Linked DNA regions of Homo sapiens. The protein of the gene in region 3 interacts with the protein of the main gene of each other region in a pairwise test. Each region holds a gene or a part of one and is shown on either strand. Other genes may lie near its edges.

The links.
Region 1: the proteins of SLC41A1 (region 3) and GPR61 interact in binary tests that used the Homo sapiens proteins (3 or more experiments, as listed by UniProt).
Region 2: the proteins of SLC41A1 (region 3) and SLC13A4 interact in binary tests that used the Homo sapiens proteins (3 or more experiments, as listed by UniProt).
Region 4: the proteins of SLC41A1 (region 3) and SCAMP2 interact in binary tests that used the Homo sapiens proteins (3 or more experiments, as listed by UniProt).

Annotation. Positions count from the first base shown.
Region 1 is NC_000001.11:109,535,109-109,542,871, reverse strand, and holds the start of GPR61 (G-protein coupled receptor 61), read right to left. Parts: upstream 3,001-7,763; 5' UTR 2,919-3,000; exon of another isoform or gene 2,805-2,918; intron 451-2,804; 5' UTR 1-450. UniProt on the Homo sapiens protein: Orphan G-protein coupled receptor. Constitutively activates the G(s)-alpha/cAMP signaling pathway. Shows a reciprocal regulatory interaction with the melatonin receptor MTNR1B most likely through receptor heteromerization.
Region 2 is NC_000007.14:135,683,078-135,690,698, forward strand, and holds part of SLC13A4 (solute carrier family 13 member 4), read right to left. Parts: intron 5,952-7,621; exon of another isoform or gene 5,827-5,951; intron 4,246-5,826; exon of another isoform or gene 3,934-4,245; intron 2,607-3,933; coding exon 2,445-2,606; intron 1,185-2,444; coding exon 1,047-1,184; intron 1-1,046. UniProt on the Homo sapiens protein: Sodium:sulfate symporter that mediates sulfate reabsorption in the high endothelial venules (HEV).
Region 3 is NC_000001.11:205,802,578-205,810,198, reverse strand, and holds part of SLC41A1 (solute carrier family 41 member 1), read left to right. Parts: coding exon 1-129; intron 130-7,621. UniProt on the Homo sapiens protein: Na(+)/Mg(2+) ion exchanger that acts as a predominant Mg(2+) efflux system at the plasma membrane.
Region 4 is NC_000015.10:74,869,915-74,877,590, forward strand, and holds the start of SCAMP2 (secretory carrier-associated membrane protein 2), read right to left. Parts: upstream 3,452-7,676; 5' UTR 3,342-3,451; coding exon 3,285-3,341; intron 1-3,284. UniProt on the Homo sapiens protein: Functions in post-Golgi recycling pathways. Acts as a recycling carrier to the cell surface.

The DNA.
Region 1 (7,763 bases), about 96 Mb from region 3:
ACAGAGCGCCAGGCCAGGCAGCTGAAGGATCAGAAGCTCATCCCCTTTCTGGCCGGAGGTAGCTGCAGGGTCTGCCTTGGTGACTGCTAAGAAGCAGGAGACGTGAGAGGTGCAGGAGCCTGACCCACTCAACACTCCGCTTTCGGAATGGCCTTCACCTCTTCCTTTTCCATCTCCTTTCTGCCATTCTTGTTCTCCATACCCTTCTACCCTTTCCAGAACTGTTAGCCGGGGATTCTAAATCCTGTTTCTCCTTCCCAGGGTCCTGCTGATCTCTGGGATAGTGCCTCAGTTTTAGGGTTCCTTATGTAAATTTCCTGATTTCTTGTCTCCTCAGAATGGCAAGAGCTGCTGGGGAGTAGAAGGAGCACAAAATTTAGTTTCTAGTCCCAGTTCTGGGCATTACTAACTCTGTGAATCTTCTGAATTTCAGTTTCCTCATAAATCCATCTGTAAAATGAAAGGAAGAACACTTGCTTCACAACTGTGTTTCTGGATCCTGCGTGATTTGTTAATAATAATACTAATGACAAGCAGTAGCATTGATACGGCGTTTTCCACATGCCAGACCCTGTTCTCAGCACTCTACCTATATTAACTCATTTTATTCCTCACACAACCCTATGAAGTAGATAATATTTTTATCTCCATTTTGCAAGAGATGAAGCTGAGGTCTAGAAAGGTTAAGTAACTTACCCAAGGTCGCACAGCTAGTAAGCGGCAAGGGCTGGGCACCTACCTGGGCAGTCTGGCCCCAGGTCCAGTACTCTTGCCCACTGTGCCATGCCATATGTGAAGGTGCCCTCCGTGCCGGCTGGACTATAATAGGCATCCAGTAAATAGTTGTTGAATTTCAGCTGTCTCTAAAACTGTCTCTTGCTGCCCTAGGGTTATCATCTGAAAAGGGGAGCTGTGCTTTAGGCTCTTTTGACATCACTACTCCCAGCACAAAGAGCTGCCACTTTGGGAATGTTGAGTAGGAGCAGTGAAAACAAAATGTCCCGTCTGGAAGGAAACTGGGAGGCCAGCTCATCCAGCCTCCACTGCTCCCAAAGCCGGAAGTTGCTTCAAGCTGCCCTTCTCCACCCACTCATGAACTCTTCAAGGCCACTGTGCCCCTCTTGTGGGAAAGGAGCTGCTGCCAACCTCCTGCTCCCCAGATCCCCAAATCTCTGATCTCTGGAGCTGACCCTTGGAGGATCCCTGACCAAGAGCCGCATTGGTTCTAGACTTACTACAGTCACAGAACAAGAAGTAGGGAGGAGACACTGAGGTTGCTCAGTTTAAAAACCCATCATTTCTATGGCTGCAATAAAGAGGATCACATGGCAAGATGGGCCCCACTCTCCTCCACAGTTATAGCCTTACAGTCACCTTTGGTTTTTGGTGTTTCCATAAACCTTACACCAATCCAACTTCTAACATGCTATGCATGCAATAGGTGCTGAATACAATTTTGTGAATTGAATCAAACTCAAATTGGTAGTTGAATCCCTGCCCCCTAGGACAAACTCCAAGAACACTCAGTCAGCCAGCTGTGTGCCAGCCAAGGGACTCTCTTGTGGAAAGGGTAGCCGGGGTTCCTGGACTTGAGGAAGCCCTAACTTTGGGCAACTGCCTAGAGACGTGCCTCTCTCTAGGGACACAGAAAGCTCATTTCACAGTTAAGATGCCCACAGAGACTTAGAGTCTGCAGAGAAGTTGAAGAGCGGGCACAAAAGTGAGACATCAGCTTCTCATTAGAGTCTACCAGGAAAAATGCCTGAAAGAAATGCTAGGAGAAGCATCCTTCCTTCTTACTCTCCATGCTCTGATTTACCTATCCCTTCTGTCTGTGAGTGAGGCCCAGAGGATGTGGTTCAGAGTCCCTCCCTGGTGGCTGAAGGAGGAGAGGCCCACCATGTCTGGATGGACATCAAGAGTCCCAGACGGAGGGAAGCAGACCTGGTTTCCACGTGGAGCTGGAGGGATGCCACGAAGCCATGATGGAGCCCTGAGCAAGAAGGCATTGGACATTGCTCTTTTTCATAGCTCCCTCAAGCTTGCCAGTGTCTCCACAGTGACTCCTAAATGCCAGGATTCCAATTTACCTCTTAACAGACAGATCAGTGTATCTGGCTAATGGGCACTCCCTCACTAATGGACTGGGGTTATGGAGGGGAGGGCTGTGGTGTAACAGTTTCATAGGTGAAACCCAGGGAGCCTCACTCCTCTCCCAGGTCATATCATTATGCCTACTCCCCCAACAGATGCTTTCCTTCCCCCACTACTTACTTCCAACAGCACCCCTCTTACCTCCAGGACCTTCAGTACCTAGAAGGCTTTGCCACTAGGGCCTGAGGTCTGGGCCTCTAGCAGGGGCATGGTCAAGTTACAGGATGCAAGATGTGCATAAGTGCCCAGCCCAAGGCCACAGAGGTATTGGGATTCACATGCACCTGTTTTCCAGATCCAGAGCTTCCATCCCAAAGACCTGAGCCTGGCCTTCCTTCAGACAAGAGCGTGCCCCTCCTAAGCTAGGGAAGATTTCCAGGGAGCTACAACACCTCTCCTCAGCAGAGTTGCCCACGCCCAGGACACAGTTGCCCATCAGCCTGTATGCTGAAGGGCCCATTCCTAGAATGTGGGAGACCCATGTCCATGACATGGAGCAAGACAGATGGAGAATGCTGTTTGTCTGCAGGATGTGGGTACTCCTGCCGGCAGGAGATGATCAACCCCCCAGCTCTGGGCTTCAGAGATGCCCACACCCCAATACCGCCTTTGGGATACCTGAGAGCCCATCTCCTGATCAAACTGCTCACCGGAATGTAGGCAGGGCTGGTCCTTGGAAAGCCACCCTTCTGTGGGGATACCTTGGCACTCACCACCAGGCTCTGGGTCTGGCCCCCATTCCTGGCCTAGTCGGCAACTCCTACCTTTGCTGAGCAGTCCCGGCTCCCATGTGATAGCTCCTCTCAGCTGATGCTTCTCCAAGGCTGCTGAAGCCTGAAGCACTGCAGTGAGCGGTGAGAGGCAGCCGGCAAAGCAGAGTGCTCCGAGAGCCTCTGGGTCCTAATGGCCTCCTGCTTCCCACCCAGCCCCTCAGAGTCACTTCTGGAGCAAAAAGGTGGGCACCAATGCCCCAGGCAAGGTGCCTGGCAGTGAGCTCAACTCCTCTCACTTCTCTCAGGCTGCTGGATTGCGTCTCAAAAATTTCGTGGGGCCAGGAAATGATAGGTAGGGGAGACCCTCTTGACCAGCCTGATGAAGTAAAAAAAAAAGTACATGGAGTCAGAAAATCCAGGTTTAAGGCCTGGCTATGGCACTTACTAGCCGTGTGACCTTGGGCAAGTTGCATTTTGGCCTTGATTTCTTAGCAGTTCAAAGAGAAGATAGGAGAGATGCATGGTTCTGTGTGACATCAGAACCAAGGTGCTGATGCAGGCAGGTCAGCGCAGACCCAGGGCCCCAAGGCTTAGGCCAGGGAGGCGGCTGAGGCTCCAGGGGATGGTCCAAGGTTTGGCCCCTTTGGAAGCTGCCTAATGCGTATGGGGGACAGGTTTAGGAGCAGCACTCAGGTTTGAAGGGCAGCTGAAGGCTTTGTCTTAACCCTGCCCTTGCCTCCCAAAAGCACATTATTATTATTTGCTTAGATTGTATGTTTATTGGAACTGGGGCTGTGAGGGCTGATGGAGATTGGCAGGGAGGGGGCGGGAGGATCTAACATCCCCCCGAGCCACCATGGGAACCACCACAACACTGCTTCCTGAAGGAGACAGAGTGGGGGCCAGGGACTCAGGAATGCTCACACTGATCTGGATTTGTGGGACTGGACAGAGCTAGGTAGCATCAGCCACTGAGCATCGCCCATCTGTGGCATGATGGGCCTTCAGAGACGCAATGAAGGGGCATGGCCTCCCTCTAGCTATGAAGAAAATGATCATTTACCCGGGTACATGACTGATACCCAAGGATAGAATCCTAACATTGCAAAGCTGTAGGACATCCTACAGGCCAAGGTATCCATGTTTCTGAGACCCAGAGAGATAAAGAGATTGCTCAAAGCCACATAGCTCCACATGGCAGAGCCATGAGTCTAAACAGGGAATTCAGGCATGATCCCCTACTCCAGAGCCTGCTTCCCTGAGACTTGCCTATCTAGGGACTCCTTCTGCCTCTAAGAAGGAAAAAGGGAATTCTGGAATTGTTTACCAGACCCAACCCAAAGAGCCATAAGAACAATGAGTTACCCAAGGACCTCACTGGGACAAGTTGGCTGCCCCAAGCCCCAGGTCAAAAACAAAGAGGCCACTGACAAACCAAGAGCCGATGCAGCAAGTGCCGCTGTCACCAGCCACCACTTTTTGAGCTGTTATGAGTGCCAGGCCCTTTACATACAGTTTCTTTGATCCCCACACCAATCTATGAGGCAGCCATGACTTGCCCTATTTTATAAGTGAGGAACCGGGTGCTGGAGGAGAAGTGACTTTCCCCAAATCACACAGCTAATAAGTGCAAGAGCTGATATTTGAACCCAGATCTGTTTGAAGTCCAAGTATTTCCTCCTCCTTCTCCCTTCGTTCCGTGGCCTCTCCAGTGGCCTGACACAAGACTGTGGACTACAGCCCTAAAAGCTATCTTCATAGAAGTAGTCACTGCCTTCCAGAAAGCCTAAAACAGACCTCAAAATTAGGCATACCTGCGTACAAGAAATTCAAATGGAAATACCAAATTGAAAACCTGTAGACAGCAAAGTGATTTTTAGGAAGCCCTGTGCTGTTGTGTTGGCAAGATTAATTTGGCATCAAGCAGATTGTCTGGGATTAGGTAAAGCCTGTCCCTGCTCAGCACCCACATTCTTCCTGCAGGGCCCCAGCCCAGACTGGCATGGCCCCTTCCGAGGGATTCAATAAGAACTGGAGCAGACCTGGGCCCACTGGAACAGGATTTTAGAAAGAGCGCTAGACTGGAGTCAGAAAACCTTGGTTCCAGTTTGGCGCCATTCTATTGGTTGGTGGTAAGACCTTGGCCTGTGAGTTGGCTGTCTGTGAAAATGGGCAAAATTCTTCACTTCCAAGCTTATCTAATAGTGGTAGGGAGCCTGCAAAACAAACATAGCCTGCCTCTCCAGCTTCAGGGAGCTAGCACAGGTAATCACAGCTCATGTGGTGGCCAGCAGGCAAGGCGTCCGTGTCCTGAAGCCCCTCCCAGAGAGCTATTGGGAAAGGCAGTACCAAAGAGGCAGCATGTTCCAGCTGTTGGAACCATCTTGGCTCAGGAGGTCGGCGGGGGAACTGCTTATTCTAGCCTGTGGGCAAATAATAAATAATAATAATAATCATGCTGGCTGGGCACAGTGGCTCACGCCTGTAATTCCAGCACTTTGGGAGGCTGAGGCGGGCAGATGATTTGAGATCAGGAGTTCAAGACCAGCCTGGCCAACATGGCGAAACCCCGTCTCTACTAAAAATACAAAAATTAGCTAGGCATGGTGACACATGCCTGTAATCCCAGCTACTCAGGAGGCTGAGGCAGGAGAATCGCTTGAACCCAGGAGGTGGAGGTTGCAGTGATCTGAGATCGCACCATTGCACTCCAGCCTGGGCAATAAGAGTGAGACTCTGTCTCAAAAAATAATAATAATAAATAATAATAATAATAATGCTACTAGTTCTTGAAGGCCCACTTTGGGAGGCACTTCTTATGCTGTATCTTATTAAATGATCTCAGTCAGGGTGTGGAGTAGCTACTGACAGCACACCCCCAACCCCACCTGCCAGTCCCTCCTTTTAGTAAAGCTTAGCACAATGGAGGGGGCAAGAAGACCAAGATGGAGAAACTGAGTGTGATCCCCCAAACCACATAAGAGATCCATGGCTCACTATGCTGTGCACACACCCAGGAAGGGAATCCTGTTACAGGACGGGGACCAGGCCCTGTTTCCAACAGTGGCACCCCTTCCCTTGGTATCATGGCAGGGCCCTTGCTGCTGAGGACTGATCTTTGCATCCTAGACTTGCTCCCTGGTACAGTTTTACCCAACCCTTGTGCACCAGCACCTCGTGACAGGGTCGTGTCTGCCCATCCACCCTTTTCTGCCCCAGGATGAGACCTGGAAGCCAATCAAGTTTATCTTTCATTCATCCATCCACTTCTTCAATAAACATTGAAGACTTCTTATGTTGCCACTGCCCCCTCCCTAGAGCCCCTTGCCTGCTCAGTGGCACCCACTACCCTCCTTCTCTGCCTTGTGTCAGAATCTGCTCTCAGGAAAGAGGTTGATAAACCCATTTGCACTGATAGCAACTTAATGTGTTCTTTCCCAGGAATATTAACAATTTAACAGGGAACAAAGAGAAGAAGCAGAACGTTGGGATTCCAGCATCGACCAGGGATGTCCCTGAGATCCCACAACATAGACTGCCTGTCAGCCGCCTACTCCCTAGCCAGGCCTCCCCCGCCAAGCTGCTGGCATTGTGTCCTCTTGGCATCCACCTCCATCCGCATGGGCACCCAACCCCCCCGCCCCTGCCAACCAGACAGCAGGCTTACAGCTGGGACCTCCACACCACAGCTCAGTTCCTGGCTTCCTGGGGCCCCCCTGTACCAGCACCAGCCATGCCTGCTTTCCAAGCACTCACCTCACCCTGCCCAGCATCTGGGAGCCAGGCCAAGGGGCTGAGGAGGGAGGCAGAGGAAAGCAGAGGTGAGAGCCCTTCCATTCTCTTTATTCCCCCACTGTCTGGCCTACACCCCCTGCCAGGAGCTGAGATCCAATGGTATATTCAGCCTGCAGCTGCCACTGGTCATGTGAGCCCATTGCTAGGTTACAGGGACCCAAAAATAAATCCTTCCCAACCAGATTAGAAACTGGGGGCCTCGGATGAACCAGGCTCAAAAGAGTGGCAGGAACACCCACAGTGCATGTTTAGGCCAGGCCTGCTATGGACCAGGGCCCTTCCCATGCTGCCCACCTCCTGTCCATCAGCAGGGGCTCAATGCTGGAACCCCACAGAAAAGTCCCAGAGAGCTCCTGGGTCTCCTATTTATTAATAACACAATAAATAGGTCTACAGGTTGAGTGGCCCTTCCTCACTAGCAATCAGGGTAATATCCTCTGCATGTTCTTCCCATCCAACCTTCCCATCATCAGCCTGTCCCTCCACAGGCCCTGCCCTACACCCAGTGCATGGGCAAAGCGAATTAGTCATTTGCCCTGTGGCCTGGGGGCCATCTGCCCTAACAGTCCTTTTCCAGACTCGGGAAGGGAGCTCTGGCAGTAGGCACAGCACTAGGCGTATTCGTGTGAGTAGTCTTACACAATCTTCTCTGTTAGTCTCAATGATTCCATTTACAGATATGGACACTGGGGCTTAGAGAGGTTAAGTGACTTTTGCAGAGCCACACAGTTGAGCAACTGGGGTTCAAACCCCAGATCTATACTATGGGGATGAGGCAAGGAAGAAGACAGGGAAGCACAGTTATGGAAAGGGGAGTTCCCCAAAACCCTTCCCTGGGGCCTGAAAACTTGGCACTTTAATTGCTCTGAATTGGAGGGGAGTTATCTCCCCCTGGAACTTCTTTCACATCCTCCAAGCCAGGACGCAGCTTACCCAGGCCACGTACCTCCTTCCCCATGGCTTTGGGCTCTGTCCCCTTCTCTGGGAAATACTGTCCAGGACCTGGGTGGGGTCATCCCCGGTGCTGAAGCCTGGGGAGGCAGACACAAATCCCCACTGCTCAGCACAACCCTGCTTCAGAAGCTTGACATAGGGCCAGAG
Region 2 (7,621 bases), on a different chromosome or scaffold from region 3:
CATCTGAAGCCAGTAGTTCAAGACCAGCCTGACCAACATGGTGAAACCCCATCTCTACTAAAAATACAAAAATTAGCTGGGCATGGAGGCGCACACCTGTAGTCCAAGGTACTCTGGAGGTTGAGGCATGAGAATCACTTGAACCTGGGAGGCAGAGGTTGCAGTGAGCCGAGATCGCACCACTGAACTCCAGCCTGGGTGAGAGTGAGATTCTGTCTCAAAAAAAAAAAAAAAAAAAAAAAAAAAAGGATAAAAAAGGACCTGAATATCTGCCACCAGCCTGAAACTTTTTCTTCCTTTCCTCTATTTGTTACTTTACAGGGCTGCCCGAGAACAAATTTGGCTCCCATGAAAAAAAATTGTCAGACCATCAGTAATTCGTATCAGTGTTTTCCATCCTCTCCCCCCCCGCTCAGCCCTGGATACTAAGTATAGCAGCAGGTGTATAGGTAGAGGAGTAGAAGGTAGATAGGCCCAGTGCTAAAGTCAGCAGCAAAATATCTCAAAGCCATCTTTTGTGAGCCCAGCTGAAAATGAAAATGAATGGTGGACGCTTCATTTTCCATTGTTGCTTCAGGGGTTTCTTGCCTGGGCCGGGGTGGAGGGTGAGTTGAGCAGAAGAATCCTGTTTTCTCAAAATACCTTTCACCCTAGGTTCATACACTTCCTCATTCTCATCTTCTGTGAATAAACCAGTAGCTTTCTCAATGAATGTCTCCACTGGCCTAATGAAGAAACGAAGGCAAAACTTGTTTGCACAGGCTCATGCCTTCTGGAACTGGGCCACAGCCTGTCTGTTCCAGCTTTCTCTACCTAGGTACCCACTTCCTTCCAGGGAAGGGTTGGGGAGAGCACATTCTTGCTATCCTTGGTGCTTATAGACCAACAAAAACCTTTTTATAGGTGCTATTCTTGCTACCACACTGGGTTTAGCATTGACAGGCCAGGGACACTGCTACAAAATAAGCTTTGAAAGAAGGCTGCAGAGCTGTCATCCCTGTCCTCATGGCAGCTGGGCCTGGCAGGGAGAGGGCACCCCAACTCACCATATCTTTGATCTGGCAGTGCCCATAGCTGAAGACGATGGCATTAGGGGGATTGCCCACAGGCAGCATCACTGCAAAGGAGATGCACATGGTGACTGGGATCAGGGTGTAGAGGGGGTTAATGTGCAGCGTTTCAGACTAGAAGAGAGAATTCACAGAAACATTCACGAGATTAGGCTTGCATTTCCTGTGCTTAATGTCAGGAGCATGCTTTAATGATGACTTGGTGCTGGCTAACCTTAGCAGGACACTATGTGGAGGGGTAGTTAGGTCTCTGCCCTCTGGGGCATGCAGTCCCTTGACAACCTGAATAGGCTGATGCTGCTTACTTGCTCCACATGGAAATATGGCTTTGAGTTACTCCCTAGAAGGGATGTTTGATTTTTTTGGTGTTATTCTAAGGAATTGGTTCCTAAACTTTATTCTTTAGCTGAGACTTCCTTTCCTTAAACTCAAATCTCATGAATAGGTTGCTTTGATTGAAGTGGGGATTCCTCAGTCTTAGGGTACAGAACTAAGGTGGTTTTTTTTTTTTTTTTTTCCTAGGGAAGATAATTGTTTTATATGGGATTTGAATCCATGGTCCTGCTCTCAATGTTGCCAAGTTTTAACTGCACTCTGTTGCTCGCAGGAGCAAGATGACGGAAGGGAGAAGTTGGGGTCATCTGAGCAATGAGCAGAGAGTATGGCTCTGGGGTTAGAAAGAGCAGTAGGAGACTATGTTGCTGGGGTCAGGAGGGGCCTTCATTTCCTGGATTCTGCCTCCCAGAATGGGACAGATGAAGCATTGGGTCAGATGCATCACCTTTCCGGCTGCTTGGCCAGGCTAAGATCTGGCCGTTGCTCCCCTCCCTTATTCTATTCACAACAAATTGGTCTGAGGTTGTGGAGCAAAGCTGACCTTGCTCCCAATCCTCAGAACTTCCCGGAGGACAGTGAAACTCAGTGGAGGCTGTGATGATTGTCTGAGTTGTGAGCTCAGTCTTTTCAGCTGTGTGTGTTTTACCTCCATTTTCTGTGGCTACCTCTTTGGCCCTACTCAGGTTTTATCTCAGGAGAGAAAGGTTGATAATGATTGCGGGGAATTGAAATGATAGGGTTTGAATATTATTTTGTATGTTCTTTGGTTTCCACTCAGGGCTGCCCCTAAACTAATCCTACTCTTTTGGACAAAGGTTTCTAGAACTCTTGCTATGATTTATTAGTGTATCTTTTTATTTACTAGTTGCTATTTGAAAAACTTCATTTTTCAAAATAGGAATTGAACACCAATTAGTGAAGGCTGTGGGCAGTAACCAGAGGAGAGCCTACAGCTACGGAAGCTGCCCTGAGCCAGGCCTGCCACTCCAGGCCCCTGGGACAGCCTGTCTGGATGTCTGGGAGCTCCGCATTACTCACCAGGCTGCACAGGATGGGCAGGAAGATGGTGATGGTTGCTGGGTTGCTCACAAACTCAGTGACAATGGACACGAGGATGCATGCCAGCAGGGTGACAGCCCACGGTGGGAGGCTGCTCAGGGACAACATCTGGTTCCCAATCCATGTAGAGAGGCCAGAGCTCTGTAGGAAGAGGTGTTACAGTAAGAAGAAAGGAGAAGAAGCACATCCCAGCTAGAGATCTTAGACTTCAGAAGGTCAGGGATGTTGGAAGGCTGGACGACCAGGGATCCTCTGATCTTTAGTCTGACTGGAACCAGAGGTGTTCCTGATTTTTATGGTTCGATCATTTTTGTAGTTCAGAAAATTGGTTTTTATGATTGCACAACATTCAGTGTTTGGGTTTCGTCATGGGACATGGAGAGCCACCCTAATTGCCATGATCCTTCTTAGGACTTTGCCATGACAACTTGTCAGAGGTTGGAGATCTTTGCTCCTCAACTTCAGTCTCGTTACCCTTTCTCTAGCCTCTGACATCCTTACCCTGTGCATTGATTCGACAATGCCCTTCACAGAGTGCCAAGTATAGCCATTTAATCTGCTTTTGAAACCAGTTTATTTTGTTACCTAAAAAAGGGAAAAATTTATCAACATCTGTGGATAGTAGCCTTTCCTGTGTTTTTAAGGAGATGAACAGGCAGGGCTGAGCACTGGAGGTTTTACAGGAGTAATAAAGTAGAGGGGGATAAAAGTCTATTTCCACTTAGTGGAGAAGGTGCCTCTTAAGTGCCATAGAGGCTGGTCATTCAGCCCCAACCTGTTTTAGGTTCAAATCTCATCATGGCTGACATTAGTTCTACTATCTGTCAGGAATTTTTTTTTAATTAAGAGGAGGGTCTTGCTCTATTGCCCAGGGTCCAGGATGAGTGCAGCAGCATGATCACAGCTCACTGCAGTCTCAACCTCCTGGGTTCAAGCAATCCTCCCACCTCAGCCTTCCAAGTAGCTGGGACCACAGGCACATACCATCACGCCCTGCTCTTTTTATTTGTAGAGACAGAGTCTTTCCATGTTGCCCAGGCCTGTCTCAAACAGACCTGGGCTTAAGCGATTCTCCCACGTTGGTCTCCCAAAGTGCTGGGATTATAGGTGTGAGCCACCGCACCTGGCCTGCCAGTGCTTTTTGAAGACACAGATATGAAGGCATATTGACCGTCCTGAATTTATTCCACTAGCAACAGTTACACACATCCACTTAAATAAATGAACATTCTGGCTGGGTGAGGTAGCTCACACCTGTAATACCAGCACTTTAGGAGGCTGAGGAAGGTAGGTCACTTGAAGTCAGGAGTTTGAGACCAGCCTGGCCAATGTGGTGAAAGCCCACCTTTACTAAAAATACAAAAATTAGCTAGGTGTGGTGGCACGCGCCTGTAATCCCAGCTATTCAGGAGGCAGAGGCAGGAGAATTGCTTGAACCCGGGAGGCAGAGGTTGCAGTGAACCGAGATTGTGCCATTGCACTCCAGCCTGGGTGACAGAGTGAGACTCTGTCTCAAAAAAATAAAAAATAAATGAATAAATATTCCCACTTGGAATGATTCATTTGGTTGGAAGATGTTCACCTGCAAATAGGGAGGGCTACCTCCCTCTCCTAAAAAATGAAAGGTATCATTGAGTTTTGTATTAAAAACTCCAGGTTGCCATATGCATCCTGCCTCCCTTCCTCTCTCTCTTCTATGGTGACAGGCTCTGCCTTTTCCCATGGTACCCTAGAAACTGCGAATGCAATGACAATATGGAGAGCAGGGACAGAAAGGAAGGTGAGACATTTATGATTCCTCAAGCTCTTAAGTCCTGCTACACATGTTTTACTATTAAATACCGCCTTCCCTACACTGCCAGCATGTTACTTTTTCTCCTCTCTTCCAAATTCATCAAAAGCTCATTTCATCTCTACAGTACCCTGGCCACCTCCTGGCAAGCTCATAGACAACTGAGGACCAAAGGCCTTCAGAATTCTCTCTGTTGTAGCCACTTCACCTTGTAGAACTTTTCTTCCTTTTTTTCCTCTCAACTCACTGAGAGCTTACAAACCCAATATGTGCAGACTGCATCAATTAATGCTTGTTTCAGAGCCCCAAGGCCTCCAGGAACTCTTTAATTGTTCCCTCTGGTAACACATTAAACCTTGCTCATTGGACAGAGGCAGGGGAGGAACAGCAGTTAGTTGAATGGAAATGGTACATTATATAAAGAGATGGAGTTTTACTTAACGTTATCCAAATAGTACTGGTAAGTAAAGTGAAATAATTTTTTTTTTCTTTTTGAGACAGAGTTGTGCTCTGTCACCCAAGCTGGAGTGCAGTGGCACCATCTCAGCTCACTGCAACCTCTGCCTCCCGGGTCCAAATGATTCTCATGCCTCAGCCTCTTGGGTAGCTGGGATTACAGGCATGTGCCACCATCCCCGGCTAAATTTTTTTTTTTTTTTGAGAGGAAGTCTCACTCTGTCGCCCAGGCTGGAGTGCAGTGGTGCGATCTCGGCTCACCACAACCTCTGCCTCCCAGGTTCAAGCAATTCTCTGGCCTCAGCCTCCCAAGTAGCTGGGATTACAGGCGCGTGCCACCACACCCGGCTAATTTTTGTATTTTTAGTAGAGACGAGGTTTCACCATGTTGGCCAGGCTGGTCTCAAACTCCTGATCTCAGGTGATCCACCCACCTTGGCCTCCCCAAGTGCTGGGATTACAGGCATGATCCACTGTGCCCAGTCCCTGGAGTTTTGCTTTTGTCACCCAGGCTGGAATGCAGTGGCACGATCTCGGCTCACTGCAACCTCCTCCTCCTGGGTTCAAGTGATTCTCCTGCCTCAGCCTCCCAAGTAGCTGGGATTAAAAGTGTCCGCCACCACGCCTAACTAATTTTTGTATTTTTAGTAGAGACAACGTTTCACCATGTTGGCCAGGCTAGCCTCAAACTCCTGGCCTCAAGTGATCCTCCTGCCTCACCCTCCTTAAGTGCTGGGATTACAGGCGTGAGTCACCATGCCCGGCCTAGTAAAGTGAAATAATTTATTGGCAATTATTTTTCCAGCAGAACTATTTTATACTATGATTTGAAATAAATTAGACTTCAAAGTTAGACAAAAACACAATCAAAGGAAGTCTTAATTCTTTAAACTCTTGGTATGAAAACATTTTACAATGGATTTTCTTCACTAATGTCAAAACTGAAATTATTTCAAACTCTGTAGGAATCACATATATGCTACCTAAATTATTATTAAAATTAGTAGAGGCAGTAGGCTTTACAGAAATAACTGTACTATCTCTAATATGTGCACAATTTTGTTTTTATTGTTTTTTTTTTGTTTTTGTTCTTGTTTTTTGTTTTGGTGGCAGGGGATAGGGTCTCCCTCTGTCTCCCAGGCTGGAGTGCAATGGTGGGATCTTGGCTCACTGCAGCTTTGAACTCCTGGGCTCAAGCGATCCTCTCACTTCAACCTCCTGAGTAGCTGGGACTACAGGTACGCACCACCACACTGGGCTAACTTTTGTTTTTGTAGAGATAGGATCTTACTATGTTGCCCAGGCTAGTCTCAAACTCCTGGACTCAAGCAATCCTCCCGCCATGGCCTCCCAAAGTGCTGGGATTACAGACATGAGCCACTGTGCCCAGCCCAATTTTGGTTAAAAAAAAAAATAAAATCTTGCCAGGCCAATCTTGTCAGAGGCCAAAACTAACAACTGAAATTCAATAAAGATAAATATAAATATCCCGAACTTGGAATGAGAAATATTGATGGCATATATATAGGATGGGGTGAAGGTCCAGTAATGATGAACAGTTAAAAAGAATGAAGGGTTCTAATTGACTGCAGTTTTAATATAATTGTTGACATGAGTGCCAAGGATGCTTTATAAAAGCTTCCATAAAAATGCAGGGTGCTGCTTGAATCAGAGGTGAGAGATGGGGCTTGGGTAATATAACTACTCTACTTGGCAGTAGACTGACCACCCCATAGACTATGTTTGAATAAGGCCAAGTGTAGTGAGTCCTGAGGAGAGAGACCAGATGGTATGGGTCACTACTACTTGATTTTTTCATGTTAATAATTATTATCTAGGAGAGGGTCCCAGAGAACAGAGCTAGAGCCAACAGTGGACAGACAACATGCAGAAGACCTGAGCTGAAAATAAGGAACAATTATTCTTTGTTCCCTGCCCAGGGAGTACCTTGTCACTGGAAGTGTCCAAGCCAGAAGTGCCATGGAGGGGAATCTCACCATGGGCAGGAGATAGGACTCATTGTTTTCTAAGGTTCTCCTTAGTGGAGTATTCTGTGACCTTATTATTAATAATGCAGATAGTATTTTGGGCCATGAAAAGTGAACCAAGCCGGGCACAGTGGCTCATGCCTGTAATCCCAGTACTTTGGGAGGCCAAGGTGGGTGGATCACTTGAGGCCAGGAGTTCAAGACCAGCCTGGCCAACATGGTGAAACTCCATCTCTACTAAAAATACAAAAATTAAGCTGGGTGTGGTGGCGTGTGCTTGTGATCCCAGCTATTTGGGAGGCTGAGGCATGAGAATTGCTTGAACCTGGGAGGCAGGGGTTGCAGTGAGCAGAGATGGCGCCACTGCACTCCAGCCTAGGTGACAGAGTGAGACTCTGTCTCAAAAAAAAAAAAAAAAAAAAAAAAAAAGAGAACCAAGTTTAGCATGGGATAATGCATGTAGATGAGATGGAGGGAGAAATAGTCTGAACCTTAACCTAATTCATTCTTAAGATTGTTTTCTATTTTATGGAGGGCTAACACTTTAGGAAATTCAATCATCCCCTCACATCCCCACCCCACTTAAAAGATCTCATCCAAAATCCTCCCAGTCAGAAAATCAAGAAGCATTTACATCAGCTTTAGCCTAGATTTTCCAAAGGGGCTCAGTCTATGTATTGTGGACAGACAGTTCACCATGTGTCACTTGGAGCATCTCTGGTCCCTTACAGAGATCGCCTATTACCACTCCTATTACCTATTACCTATGTCTATCTCCTGTTACCATCTCCTATTGCCACTGTCAAATCCCAGAAGGAGATGGCTGCAAACTCCAATAAACCTTTTGCTTGTAGCAGCATGGGCCCCATAGATGAACTATCAATGCCCATGTGTCATGACTGTGTGGCACAGCCCATCTG
Region 3 (7,621 bases):
GACCGTGGCCCTGCGCCACCTTCCCCGCTCAAGGAGACCTCCTTTTCCATCGGGCTGCAAGTACTGTTTCCATTCCTCCTGGCAGGCTTTGGGACCGTGGCTGCTGGCATGGTGTTGGACATCGTGCAGGTAGGACCTGAGTAGGGCAGCTCTTGACTGTGAGCCCAGGGCCACCTTTGCCTGCTGGGAAACTTGGAACTTCCTCTCTACCTCCCTGTCAGAAGTGGCTGCTGCTTCCTAGAATACTGTTTTCCTTTGGATCATGTCCTCGGTTTCTTCTTGGTCTAGTTCCTTTCTACAGAAGCCTCAAGGAAACCGAGTAGCCCTGGGGAGGTGATCAGGGCAGTATTGCTAAATAGAAACAGAATTGGCTCCCGAGCTCAGGCTTGGGAGAGGAGAGATGGAACAGGGTCGTTGCTTGCCATCTCTCCCAAGCAGTCCTGCCGAGCCCAGCTCAGTAGGAGACATTTACAAGGGTCTCCTCTTTATGCCTTTTGTCCCCTGCATTTGGGGTTTCAAGGATACCCATAGTAGAAAGCTCAGTTTCAAGCCTCTCCTCCATCCCCCTACTGGGCAGGAATTTGTTCAGCTGCCAAGAGGGTCTCAAATTAAGTAGGAAGGCTCTTGAAGGCATTTTGTGTTGCTTATCTTCCTGTAACCTTGGCATAATCCCCTTGGGGGGTGGGGGTGGGCACTTGCTGTCTGATGCATGATTTGGAGATTTGGTGTAACAAGACCCAAATGTGCTAATTATCTGCTGTAAATGGGGACAAAATGTAACTAGGCCTGGGCAGAACTGTCTCTCCTCTTTGCTCCTCACCTGTCATTCTGAACCTGCCCTGGGCAAAGAGGGTTCTTTTTGAGGACATTGGGTAGAATGAAGGATGAGAGTCGGTGGGACATGGAATCTAAGAGCCAGAGATGTGCCATGTTAATTTATTGTGAGTCAGGACTTATGAAGAACCTCCAGGTCCAAGAGTTAAAGTTTTGTTTTTAGATAAAAGTTTTTTAGGCACAGTGTGGCACACCAAACTTTTTGAAGGTGCTGGGTTTACCTAAGTAATTCAGCAATGTGTATCAAATTCCTGCTGAATGCTGGCCTCTGTCCTAGGTACTCAGAGAAATATTAATACCAAGGCAGGAGGAGATCTGGCCTTTGCTTTTTGGGACCCCCAGTGTTCCCTGACTGTGATATCTCCCAGAAGGACACGAAGCTTAGCATCACCTTCCCTGTGCCAAGCCAACCCTACAGACCATAGTGATATAGAGTTCTGCTGGTAGGTCTCACCATGCCTGTGTCCTGGGAGACTGAAGGGGGTTGGTTCTTGATAGTGTGTGCACATGGAGAACTTTGACTTGAGCCCTTCAGGGGAACCCTGCACCTTTGGTTGCTCATGAGAGTGCTGTTTAAGTCATGCCAAAGTGCCTTGCACTGCCTCCCCTTTCCCCAAAACTGTTATCTTGAAGGTTGTTCCTACATGGAGGTTGGGAAGCCAGCCTGGAGCTTTGGGTTCCTCCTGCTAGGGGCTGCTCCTCCCCCTAGGGCCGGGACTGGGACAGTAGGAGGAGGAGAAAGAGACTAGGGTAACATTTTTCTTCACCTCTTCTATTCCTTTCCTGTGGCCTCAGTTCTCATTCTTGAAGTTGTTGCATTCTGGTTTGATACCTACAAAGGGTTGCAGAGCCAGGGTCCAGAGGTGAACTGAAGAGAGTTGTCTTATTTTCTGGATAATAGTAATGGTAGTGGGGAAGCATTTGGGGGGCTCTTCGGTAGGCCCATGAGGTAGGATCCATAATCATCTCCATTTTGTAGGTAGGGAACTTGTAGCTTAGAGGGATTAGGTAACTTGTCCCTGGTCATCTGACCCTAGAGCCCACACCACTAACCCCTGTGGCCTTCGCCATGGCCATGGTTCACCAGTTGGTTAAAAACTCGGAGAGGGGGCCGAGCTCAGTGGCTCATGCCTGTAATCCTAGCACTTTGGGAGGTCAAGACGGGCGGATCACCTGAGGTCAGGAGTTTGAGACCAGTCTGGCCAACACAGTGAAACCCCGTCTCTACTAAAAATACAAAAAATTAGCTGGGCATGGTGGCAGGCACCTGTAGTCCCAGCTACTTGGAAGCTGAGGCAAGAGAATCATTTGAGCCCGAGAAGTGGAGGCTGCAATGAGCCAAGATCGTGCCACTGCTCTCCAGCCTGGGTGACAGAGCGAGACTCCAACTCAAAAAAAAAAAAACTCTGGCTGGGCATGGTGGCTTATGCCTGTAATCCCAGCACTTTTGGAGGCTGAGGCAGGAGGATCGCTTGAAGCCAGGAGTTCAAGACCAGCCTGGGCAACAAAGTGAGACCTTGTCTCTACCAAAAAAAAAAAAAATAGTCAGGCATGGTGGCATTCTCGTATAATTCCAGCACTTTGAGAGGCTGAGATAGGAGTGATCACTTGAGCCCAGGAGTTTGAAGTCGCAATGAGCTATGATTGTACCACTGCACTCCAGCCTCAGCAACAGAGCCAAACGCTGTCTCAAAAAAAAAAAAAAAAAAAAAAAGACTCTACGAGGAGCCTATTTTCTTTGTCTTTCCTTGAAGAACTGGGTGGATTAGAATCTGGATTAATTAGCGTTATCTTCTGAAGTGAGCAAGAATAAAAGTTCTTAGATGGGGTAGGGAGGGACCCCCGCATACACACCACACCCCTACCCATCCCACACACTTAGATTCCAAAGTTTCTGATGTGTTGCCCCATCCCCACTCCAGGCCCATGAGCTGGAGACATTGAGAGGCCTGGGTAGGGAACCTTTGGAGCTGCTCTCAGTGTGGCACCTCAGCTCACCTCAGAGCTAGGGTCCACTTGGTGTGGATGACAATGACAGGTTTGTCCATGTCCTCCTCCCCCAGCCTTCCTGCTACAGCTGGGCTGGAGCAGGCCCTGCAGATGGCAACAGTGAGATGGCAGGAGGGGGTGAGTGCAGAGGGACCGAGACATGGGACCACAGGGAGATTGTTATTCCACATCCATGGGAGTAAAAGGGGGACTGACAATCTCAGATTCAGGAAGAGCGGGATGGTTTCTAAGGATTCACACCTATATTACCCCTTCATAAGCTAAGATGGACTTCAGTAAGAGAATCTGAAAGTGCCCCAAGACCATGGGGCCATCTGGAGAAGCTGGCTATGGAGTGTCCCCAGCATCTTGGAGCAACTGAGCAGGAGTCCATATTGGGCCTGGTTCAGATGTCTCCTTGGTCCAGGGCCCCCATCTTTCCTTGCTGCTGTAGAAAACTTGGTTTCTTTTTCACCAACGAGATGCAAAAAAAATAAAAATAAAAAGTTGAATTTTAATTTTAATTTAAAAGAAAAAGAAAACCCACTCTCTTCCTAGAAGGGTCATTTCTGCCTCCTCTTATCTGCCCTCCCGTAAATGTGCACAGCAGCATCTGCAGTGAAATAAGGGGCTGGTGCTGGCCCAAAGTAGGAAAAGGATAAATGGACCTCCATCTGCTCTAACTTCCCAACCATGGCTGAAAGTTCCTGCAGCATCTGGAAGGGAAGCAGGCTGGGGCCTGGTGTTGGCTTCTGAAGGGGGTTGGGATATGGGAGCCTCCTCACTGCAGGAGCCTTGTGCCCATCTGCCCAGTTTGGTCCTAGGCTGCTCCGGATGTCTCACTCCCTTTATCTGTCAGCCTTTGTGAGGGATGGGGTGACAGGAAGTAGTGTGCCCATCTGCACTTTAATTCCCAGCTAGGTTAAGACAGGTCCTTATTTTAACTCACTACTCACCTGCTAAGGATCTTGAACAAAGTAGATCCTGCTGTGTATACAGAAGTCTACAACGATGAAAGTGCATGGCAAGCGTGGCCTTGGGGAAGTAGAGTGGGAAGGAAGTATTCCTCCTGTGCCTGGCCTGCTCCTGTGGCCGCAGCATCCCTGGGCGGGACACTCTTATCTGCTTCACTTGACCACCCCTTCTGCTTTTCCCATCTCTGTCCCCTGCCTGCTGTCAGGGACCCATTTGCTTTGCTCCTGCTTTGTCCTGCACCGTATATCCAGGTGTTGCCCTAAAGCCCTTTCCTGGACACCTAGAGGATGCCTTTTGGAAAAGCCTCAGACAGGTGAAGCCTGGGGTTACTGTAATCTCATCTGACCCAGTCCTTACCCTAAAAGATCAGCTCCAGCCCAGCTTCTCCCACAGGAGCCCAGATTCTCCCCAGCCTGGAGCCTAAAGCTTGTATCTGGGAATTTAAGTCTTCTTAATGTCTTGATTCCTGGCTCTGACTTTCTTCCCTGCTGCTACCCTCCTGAGGTGGCTCAGGCCAGAACCCTTGAAGGCAGGTCAGGGTCAGTGTATGAGCTTGGATTGGAGTAGGTGAAGGATGGAAGAGGCGCATTGGAAGGGCAAGGAAGAGGTACTGGCAGGACCACTGAGGATCGAGACTTAAGGTGATTGCTGTGCCTCAGGATTCATTTTGGCTATGGGGGAGGCAGTCTATTCCCTCACCTGCAGAATACCAGGGATCCATGAGCCCCTCACACCAAGGTTAGAGAAGGAAAGAGATGAGGAGCTGCATTTCTGAGAAGTAGTTAAAATCTAGATGCTCCCCTCACCTCCAAGCAGGGCAGCACTTCCTGGAACATGCCCTTTTTCATCCCCATCAGAGCAGGAAGGCGTGGGTGGCTGCTTGGCAGACGGGTGTGACTTCAGGGGCAGATACTCCTAGCCTGGATGAACAGGATGGGGCTGAATTTGGCCAAAGGAGGAAGAAGAGCTACTCACTGTCTGCCCCTGCCCATCCTGTCTACTCCTAACCTTAAGGCCACCTTGATTCCTGGGCTGGCTCCACATCTCCAGCCTCCAGCATCTCTTTCCAGAGTCCTATGCATGCCCATGTGTCAGAGGCTTTCTGCCTGAGCTGCAGCTTTGAGAGGGTTTGTGGGTGAAGAAAGTATGTGTGTAGGAATTGGCTTCTCTGACCCAAGTGCCAACTCGGGGCTTTGCTGGCCTGGGGTCAGGTCGTTTGAGGTTCCAGGCTATATTCTGTAAGAGTCGGGAAGACTTTTGCATAGGGGCTGTTACTGTGACTGCTCCCTCTCCTTGCCTGTCTGTCTCTTATCCCACTGCTCCTAACACTCCGTACTTTGTAGATCCTCCTGTAGCTATAAGGAGAGGGTGCATTGTGCTGGGAGGTAGAGAGATTTGGGGTGCTTATGGTAGCAACCAGAGGAACTTAGCTGAGCTTTATACATTTTTCTTAAATAATAATAAAAGCAAGCAATATTCATTACAAACAGCTCAGAAAACATTGCTTGCATACATGTGGAGTCTTCTTGTGGGCTTTTTCTTTCTATGAGTACATGTACATTACATACACCTACCTGTAGAAGTCAGATTTTCATGGAGCTGGCAGCTTGGAAGCAGGGTGGAGCTGGTGTTTTGGGGTGAAGATGAGCTCTGAGGCTGTGCTCTGAGAGGAGCTTTGAAAGCCCGCAAGGGAGGGGAGAAGAGGGGGATTTTTCCCCTCTCTGGAGCTGGTTTGGGAGGAAGCAGGAGGCGAAGCAGAGCAAGGCCAGACTGCAGGGAGCTGGAGCCTCAGTGGTATGTACCAGCCGTGTCCAAGAGTAACAGTCCCCAAGTTGCTCCAGGGCAGATGGGGCTCACTGGGGCTGCCTTCTCTCTGGGGGGTCTTAGGGTGGGAAGGGATTCACTTCCCTTCAGTGTTTGGAGAGGGCTGGCTCATCCTTTGGCTGCCTGGAAGCCCAGTAACTGTTGTTGAGATGGGGGGCAGTCTCTTCCCCATTGTTAGTCCCTACGGTGGGGCTTCCCTAAGGAGAGTCCCAGGTCTTGGCCAGACCAGAAGCTCAGGCAAGCGTATGCTCCAGCCCCAGTGAAATGAGTCCTTCCCCAGGATCCTGTGAGGCCTCCCACCCCATTCACACAGGGAGAGCTCCGACAGGAAAAGAGAGGTTCTTGCCTTATAGGGCCACCCAGCGCCCAGCCTCTCCTGGTCTCAAGCCCTAGCCCCACCCCCTCTGATAGCCTTGCTTATCTTTTTGGTTATTGTGGTAAAAAATGTGTAACATAAAATTTACCATCTTAACCCTTTTTTAAGTGTGCTGTTCAATAGTACTACGTATATTCACCTCATTGTACAACAGATCTCCAGAACTCCTCATCTTCCCCAGCTGAAGCTCTGTACCTATTAAACACTCACTCTTTTCCCTGCTCCCCCAGCGCCTTGCTTCCACCATTCTTCTTTCCGCCTCTATGAATTTGACTACTTAGGCTGGGCTCGGTGCCTCATACCTGTAGTCCCCACACTTTGGGAGGTCGAGGCGAGAGGATCCTTTGAGCCCAGGAGTTCGAGACCAGCCTGGGCAATATAGTGAAACCCCTGTCTCTACAAAAAATACAAAAATTAGCCAGGTGTGGTGGTGCATGCCTCTAGTCCCAACTACCCGAGAGACTGAGATGGGAGGATGGCTGGAGCCCGAAGCCATGATTGCACCACTGCACTCCAGCCTGGGCCACAGAGTGAGACCGTGTCTCAAGAAAAAAAAAAAAAAAAAAAAGAATTTGACTACTTTGGATACCTCAGATAAGTGTTTTTTATCTGAGTGTTTTATCATACAGTGTTTTTTATGACTAGAGTAATGTCCTCAAGGTTCATCCATGTTGTGGCATATGACAGGATTTCCTTCCTTTTTAAGGCTGAGAAATATTCCATGGTATATATGTACCACACTTTGCATATTTTGTTTATCCATTCATTCCTTGATGGACATTTGGGTTGCTTCCACCTCTTGGTTATTACATATAGTGCTACTATGAACATGGGCATATTAATATATCTTCAAGACCTTGCTTTCTATTCTTTTGGATAAATATCCAGAAGTGGGATTGCTGGATCATGTGGTAGTTTTATTTTTAATTTTTTGAGGAACCACCGTACTGTTTTTCATAGCAGCTGCACCATTTTATAGTCCCACCAAGAGTGCACAAGGGTTCCAATCTCCACATGCTTTTTTCTTTTCTTGAGACGGAGTCTTGCTCTGTCACCCAGGCTGGAGTGCAGTGGCACTGTCTCGGCTCACTGCAACCTCCAACTCCCAAGTTCAAGCAATTCTTCTGCCTCAGCCTCCCCAGTAGCTGGGATTACAGGTGTGCGCCACCATTCCCGGCTAATTTTTGTATTTTTAGTAGAAACAGGGTTTCACTATGTTTGCCAGGCTGGTCTCCAACTCCTGACCTCAAGTGATCCACTTTCCTTGGCCTCCCAAAGTGCTGGGATTACAGGCATGAGCCACTATGCCCAGCCCAAACTCTACATCCTTGCTAACACTGATTATTTTCTGGGTTTTTAAATAGTAACCATCCTAATGAGTGTGAGGTGATCTCTTACTAATCTACAGTATTGCTCAACTTTATTTTATCTATTTTATTTTATTTTATTTTATTTTATTTTATTTTATTTTATTTTATTTTTGAGACAGAGTTTCACTCTTATTGCCCAGGCTGGAGTGCAGTGGTGCGATCTTGGCTCACTGCAACCTCCACCTCTTGGGTTCAAGCGATTCTCCTGCCTCAGCCTCCCGAGTAGCTTGGGATTACAAGCATGTGCCACCAC
Region 4 (7,676 bases), on a different chromosome or scaffold from region 3:
TACACCTCCCAACGTCCTAGCCCTGGCAGTCAAGGAAGCAGACATCACCATCTCAAGGAAAAGGTGGGCAGCTCTGACCAGGAGAAGGTTCAGAGGCCTCACATCCAAAGCTGTTTCTCCCCACACCACTGTGTGCCAAGAGGAAAAGCCCAGCCCAGGATGAGGAGGAGCAAATCGCAGCCAGCCAGCCAGCTTTCTTCTTCCCACCCAGGACTCCCCACCAGATGTGGCTGGTTGACAGGACCACAGCTGCTTCCTGTCATGCCATATCCTGGGGCTTCCTGATGGACAGACTGTCTCGCTAGAATGCAGAAGTTACTTCTACCACAGTTTGCACAGTCATTTTTGGAGCCAGAGATGAGGTTTAAGACTTTCAAGCAGCTATTAATACAGGGTAGAACTATCTTGCCCTCTGCTAACACTGGAGCAAAGCTCTCTGCATTTTTAGACAACTGACTTCCTCTCTGTCAGACAGCAGCAGACTTTTTATTTCTGATTCTGAGAGGACAAAAAAACACACATAAAAAATGGAAAATCATCACATACAACATACACCATAAGGCTACAAGATCCTACTAAAACCCAAACCCCAGTATTATACAGCAGTTTTGTAATTAAAGTCTGTTACCAGAAGACATTGGCAGAAAAAAAAAATGCAAATCTTCTTTCTTTACTCAATAGAGATGACTGTTTGCCTTACATAAGAGACAAGGTCCTTGCAAACGCTCTGTCAAGAAACATTAAGCTACGAGAGGAATGTTCAGAATTCCCTGATGTTCTAAGGAACAAGCTATCAGAATTTGCCCTGAGGGCTCCTGTTGGCTAAGACACCTTGAGACCAAGAAAGAAGCAAAACATTTTCACTCTCCTGACAGCGTATAATTATTTAGTTCAAGTCTCCTTTGATTTTGCTCTGACCCTTGAAGCGATTCAAAGTGGGAAAACTCATGCTGTGAATGACAGGAAGGACTCCTTCAAGGACTTCTCTGACACCTGCAGGAAACTTAAAAGCTGCCAATGACCAAAATAAAGGACAAGCAGGGTGAGTTAATGTGCCTGGTGACATCCTGACAGAGCAGAATATCAGGGCTCATAATTCACCAGTCAGCACAAACAAGCTTCCCTAGAACGGGTTTTGAGCAGACGTGAAACAAGAGGCATAGGAGCTCTGGAGGTAACAGTTCAGCCCCTCATGGTGGAAAAAGATCATCCCTGTGCTCTCAGCTGAAAGGCAGAAAGGTGTGGGCTTTAAGTAGGAAGACTGTCCTGTGGCTCATGCCTGTAATCATAGCACTTTGAGAGGCTGGGGCCAGAGGATTGCTTGAGACCAGGATTTCGAGACCAGCTTGGGCATCACAGCGAGACCCCTTCTCTACAAAAATTTTTTTTAAAAGGAGTCAGGCCCAGTGGCACATTCTTGTAGTCCCAGCTACTCAGGAGACTGAGGTGGGATTCAAATAATCATTTGAATCCTGGAGGTCAAGGCTGCCATGACCTCCACTGTGCTACAGCCTGGGCGACAGAGTGAGACCCTGCCTTAAAAAAGGAAGAAAGAGGGCTGGGCGCAGTGGTTCATGCCTGTAATCCCAGCACTTTGGGAGGCCGAGGCAGGTGGATCACCTGAGGTCGGGAGTTCGAGACCAGCCTGACCAACGTGGAGAAACCCCGTCTCTACTAAAAATACAAAATTAGCCGGTCGTGGTGGTGCATGCCTGTAATCCTAGCTACTCAGGAGGCTGAGGAAGGAGAATTGCTTGAACCCAGGAGGCTGAGGTTGCAGTGAGCCGAGATCGCGCCACTGCACTCCAGCCTGGGCAACAAGAGCAAAACTCTGTCTCAAAAAAAAGAGGCCAGGTGTGGTGGCTCACCCCTGTAATCCCAGCACTTTGGGAGGCTAAGGTGGGTGGATCACTTCAGGCCAGGAGTTTGAGACCAGTCTGGCCAATAAGGTGAAACCCCGTCTCTACTAAAAATACAAAAATTAGCCGGGTGTGGTGGTGCACACCTGTAATCCCAGTTTCTCGGGAGGCTGAAGCACGAGAATCACTTGAACCCAGGAGGCTGAGGCTGCAGTGAGCCGAGATCGCGCTACTGCACTCCAGCCTGGGCGACAGAGCAAGAATTGTCTCAAAAAACAAAACAAAACAAAACAAAAAAAAAGGAAAAGAAAGAAAGCAGGAAGATTGTTTCTTCCTTGATTGCTGTTCAAAAGGTCAGGCCAGGCGTGGTGGCTCACACCTGTAATCCCAGCACTTTGGAAGGCCGAGGCGGATGGATCACCTGAGGTCAGGAGTTTGAGACCAGCCTGGCCAACACGGTGAAACCCCGTCTCTACTAAAAGTATGAAAATTAGCTGGGTGTGGTGGCATACGCCTGTAGTCCCAGCTACTCAGGAGGCTGAAGCAGGAGAATTGCTTGAACTCGGGAGGCAGAGGTTGCAGTGAGCGGAAATCGTGCCAATGCACTCCAGCCTGGGCGACAAAGCGAGACTCCGTCTCAAAAAAAAAAAAAAAAGTCAGGCCAGCTCACACGTCAGTGCATCTCAACTATGTTGCCACCACACACAGTTCCATCAGACAAACGTTCCCTGTGGGTCCAGAATTTTTCACAGTCCCCCGCACCTCTCCTCTCTCCCTAACCCGGGCTCTCCTATCTGGTCAAAACCCACTCCAAACTAGACCCATGGCCAAAATGTGGAATTCTTATCAAGGCCATTTTTCAACTTGGGCTACCTTCCCGCCCTCTCCCATCTTTCTTTCCCTGACAAATCTCAGGGGCTCTCCTGTACTTTATACACTAGTTTGGCTGGTGGTGGAGCGGTGGCAGGTGTCCTGGGCTTTTCCCACATTTTTCCCCTCCACCAGAGGCTTCACCACCTCCTCATATGTTGCTGTCACCCCCTCTTCTAAAGTGACTCAAGACAGGTGTCTATCCAAGAATGAGGGAATGCGATAGCCACATTTCGCTTCTCCCTGACGCTAGGAGACTTCCGGAAGGGTCCGACCGTACCTGCTCCAGTCCCCTTCCCTAGCACAGCCCAGCCTCCGGGTGCTAGAAGACCCCACTGTCTCCAACACTTCAGCGCCCCGCCTCCTCTGCAGTTCCACCTGCTGCTAGTCGCGCCCCTCACGCGTTACGATAGGCCAGACCTCAAAGCCCGCTCTCCCATTGGGCAGATGACCCGTCCCTCCTACGCCACGTCTCCCGGCTCTAGCGAGAGGCCCGGGCGGCGGCCGTGGGCCCTAGGGAAATCTGAGAGCTGGATGGCGGGAGAGGGGCTCTACCTGGAAGGGGTTTACATCCACTGGGTCCGCGAAGGGGTTGGTGTCGAAAGCCGACATGGTGATCGGGGGCCAGCGGGCGAACTCCGCGAACGCTGCTGCCTCCGGGCACCCAGACCCAGCGGCGCTTCGTGTAGACCCTCCACTTCCGGGAGCGAGGCAGCGGTTCTGGCGCAGGCGCGATGCCCTCCCCCGAGGGCGTGGCCCTATGACGGCACCGGGGTCGCTCCGCCCCCCCCCCCCCCCCCCCCGCCCAGCCCACAATAGTGCGGTGGGTGGGCATTCGGCTTCCGTCCACATCTTCGCTCTGCTGGGGATTCAGGGGTCTTGGCTGCGCGGAGCGTCTACGGAGCCAGAGGCGTGGCCGGAGTCCTTCCCAACTGCCTATCAATCTGACACCTTCCAATTTTATGTTTCTAAAGCAAACTCTCAAAAGTGGGACAGGAAACAGCCCCTTCACTTCTCTGTAGACCAAGTTTGGGAAGAAGTCCAAACTGATCCCTGGGCAAAGGACAGGGGTGACAGGTGAGGCCAGAGGCCTTGGGAGAACTAGGAAAGCGCTTCTTCTGCAGAACGTGCTCGGGGAAAGAGAAGTGCCAGGACCATCCAGCAGTCCTCCACCCGAGCTGAGCCTGCTTCTTCTAGGGCTGCTCGCCCTCTGATGTCGTTTCATCGTTTTAGGGACGAGGGTTCCTGGGCCCATCAGCTTTGGGACCTGAGTTGGGACTTGAACCTGGACATCAAACATTTATGAAGTGACTCACGGAATTCAGCAACACAGCCTCAATCATGGGGGAGGTGGCTGCTTCACTCTCCACAGCTCCGCTTTCCCCCGCCCCCGCCCCCCACAGGGTCTCACTGTCGCCCAGGCTGGAGTGCAGTGGTGCAATCATGGCTCACTGCAGCCTCGAGCTCCTGGGCTCAAGCAATCCTCCCACCTCAGCCTCCTGAGTAGCTGGGACTACAGCTGGTCACCACCATACCCAGCTAATTTATGGATTTTTTGTAGAGATGGGGATCTCACTATATTGCCCAGGCTCGTCTCAAACACCTGGGCTGAAGTGATCCTCCCGCCTTGGCTTCCTAAAATGCTAGGATTATACTCATGAACCACTGTCTGGCCAAATCCACCTTATTTATTTGGATCTGTCTGGTATTATTCATCTCTGCTGTCACCGAATCCCAGCCACTGTCATTTTTACCCTGAACTAATACAGTGCTGTTAATTGGTCTATTGTTCTTCATGTTGTAATCAAAGATATGTTTAAAGGGGGCAAAATTATCACAGAACTTTGTTAAAATTTTTCAATTAATTTCCATAAAGGGCTGGGTGCGTGGCTTATGCCTGTAATCCCAGTACTTTGGGAGGCAGAGGTAGGAGGATCACTTGAAGCCAGGAGTTCGAGACCAGCCTAGGCAACATACCAGGACCCTGGCTCTACAAAAAAAAAAAAAAAAAAAAAAAAATATATATATATATATATATATATATATATATACATATACATATCTCACACACACACGTAATTAGCTAGGCATGGTGGCCTGTGCCTGTACTCCCAGCTACTTGGGAGGCTGAGGCAGGAGGACTGTTTGAGCTCAGGAGGTCAAAGCTGCAGTGAGCCATCTTTGCACCACTACACTCCAGCTGAGTGACAGAGTGAGACCCTGTCTCAGTTAAAAAAAAAAAAAAAAAAATCAGGCCAGGCAAGGTGGCTCATGCCTGTAGTCGCAGCACTTTGGGAAGCCAAGGCAGGCAGATCACCTGAGGTCAAGAGTTCGAGACCAGCCTGGCCAATATGGTGAAACCTCATCTCTACTAAAAATACAAAATTAGCTGGGTGTGGTGGTGCACACCTGTAATCCCAGCTACTTGGGAGGCTGAGGCAGGAGAATCGTTTGAACCTGGGAGGCGGAGGTTGCAGTGAGCTAAGATTGCAACATTGCACTCCAGCCTGGGCAAAAAGAGTGAAACTCTGTCTCAAAAAAAAAAAAAAAAAATCATAAAGGCCCAAATTCTTAGTTTGTCTTCAAGGTCCTAAAGGATCTGCCCCTACGTTTCTCCCCTTCTGACCCCTTCTAGCCCCCAACCCCCACCCACTGTTCCAGCCATGCAAGTTCTTTTCAGTTGCTCAAACCTTCCTTGTGCCCTCCTGTCTCAGGGCCTTTACACATGTGTTCCTTCTACCTGGTATGCACTTAACCCATGCCCCACTATCATCCTCTGGTTAACCTCTCCTTACCCTTTAAATGCAAGTTCAGATGCCTTTCTTCAGGAGTAGCTTCCCTTCACTCTCTTGGTTACATCATCACCTCATACCCAACATAAGCTCTCCTATTGCCCTGTACTTTTCCTTCACAATACCCATTGCAGATTGTAATTAATACTAGTATAGGTGGTTCTTTATGCCTGTATCCTCCGCTAGACTGAAAGCTCCATGAGGGTAGGGCTGAGGTCTGTTTTGCTCACTGTTGTGTTTCTGTCACTAACATAGTATAAAGCACATGATACACATTTATTAATTTATTTTTTGTGGGTTTGGGGTTTTTTTTTTTTCCAGACAAAGTCTCACTCTGTCACCCAGGGTGGAGTACAGTGGCATGATCTCAGCTCAGTGCAATCTCCGCCTTCCAGGTCCAAGAGATTCTGCTGCTTTAGCCTCCCAAGTAGCTGGGATTACAGGCACTCACCACCACACCCAGTTAATTTTTTTTTTTTTTTTTTTGTAATTTTAATAGAGACTGGGTTTCACCATCTTGGCCAGGCTGGTCTTGAACTCCTGATTTCAAATGATCTGCTCGCCTCGGCCTCCCAAAGTGCTGGGATTACAGGCGTGAGCCACTGTGCCCAGCCCACATGCATCATACACATTTAGTAACTATTTTACTGTTTCCCTGCATCCATTTATTTTGTTTGTTTATTTAGAAACAGGGTGTTACTTTGTTGCCCAAGCTGGTGTTGAACTCCTGGCTTCAATTGATCCTGCCACTTCCGCCTCCCAAAGTACTGGGCCTACAGGTACACACCACTGCGCCTGGTCATCTGTTTCTTTCACCTTCCTCTCCCATCTAAATCCTGACTATCCTTTAGGGTTTAGCTCAGCTTTACTTCGGGAAATATCTGCACACAAGTGGGAGGATGGGGAAGGATCCATTTTGTATCCCCTTAGAAATTGCCTGTCCCCAAGCCTCTATGGCCACCCCTCAAGGGCAGCAGACAGATCTTTGCTGTCTGCTCTCTGCAGCCTCAGAGGAGAACAGTCCACACCCCACAAGGCAGTCCTGCCTGCTCTGGGTCTGCTGCAGCCAAGTACAATGCTGGGCTGGTGAAGAAAGAATGAAACTTAATTACAACCAATGTGGTGGCTGCCCATCTATCTGTCTAATTCCCTACAAGAGAGACATCATTCATTTATTCTACAAGAGAGGAGGTATAGAGAATGCAGCTCTTTGCTTTTAAACCAGTTATTTCACCTCTCCAAGACCCATTTTTCTCATCTTGATCTTGAAACCACCTTTGCAAAAATTATAACTGAGGAAATTATGACAGTGGGAGAGATTAGACCTAACCTACTCCATCTTGCTTCTGACCTTTAAGTGGTCCTTGTTCATTCCTGGGTGTAGGCTGAACTAACCTTGGGAAGGAATTTATAGTTTAACTCTGAAACAAAATTGATTATAGCCCTTTTCCAAAAAAAAAAAAAAAAAAAAATCCCTTCTTGCCTGGGGACCAGTCTGCCTTTCTGGACTAATAAATTAGCTACAAGATTAGAAACTATGGTTTAGGGACCATGCAGCCTTCAGCTGTGAGTCTGAACCTCCCCAGATTGCTCCTGAGAATAACATCACTATTGTAAAACCTAAGATCAGTGCTTGAGATATTTTGCAGACCTTGCACTTGATGGATCTGCTGACACCACCTCCAACAGTAATGTAGCTCAGACAGTTCTGCCATCCCACTCAGGAACAGAAGACAGCAAGAAAAACTCACTTCGACCCCCTATGATTCCATCTCCAACCCGACCAATCAGCACTCCCTACTTGCCTAGCCCCTACCAGCCAAATTATCTTTTTTTTTCTCTCTTTTTTTCTTTTTGAGACGGAGTCTTGCTCTGTCACCAGGCTAGAGTGCTGTGGCACAATCTCGGGTCACTGCAACCTCCAACTCCCCGGTTCAAGGGATTCTCCTGCCTCTGCCTCCCAAGTAGCTGGGATTACAGGCATGCGACACCATGCCCGGCTAATTTTTGTATTTTTAGTAGAGATGGGGTTTCACTATGTTGGCCAGGATGGTCTCGATCTCCTGACCTCGTGATCTGCCCGCCTCGGCCTCCCAAAGTGCTGGGATTACAGGCATGAGCCACCACACCCGGCCAAATTATCTTTAAAAACTCT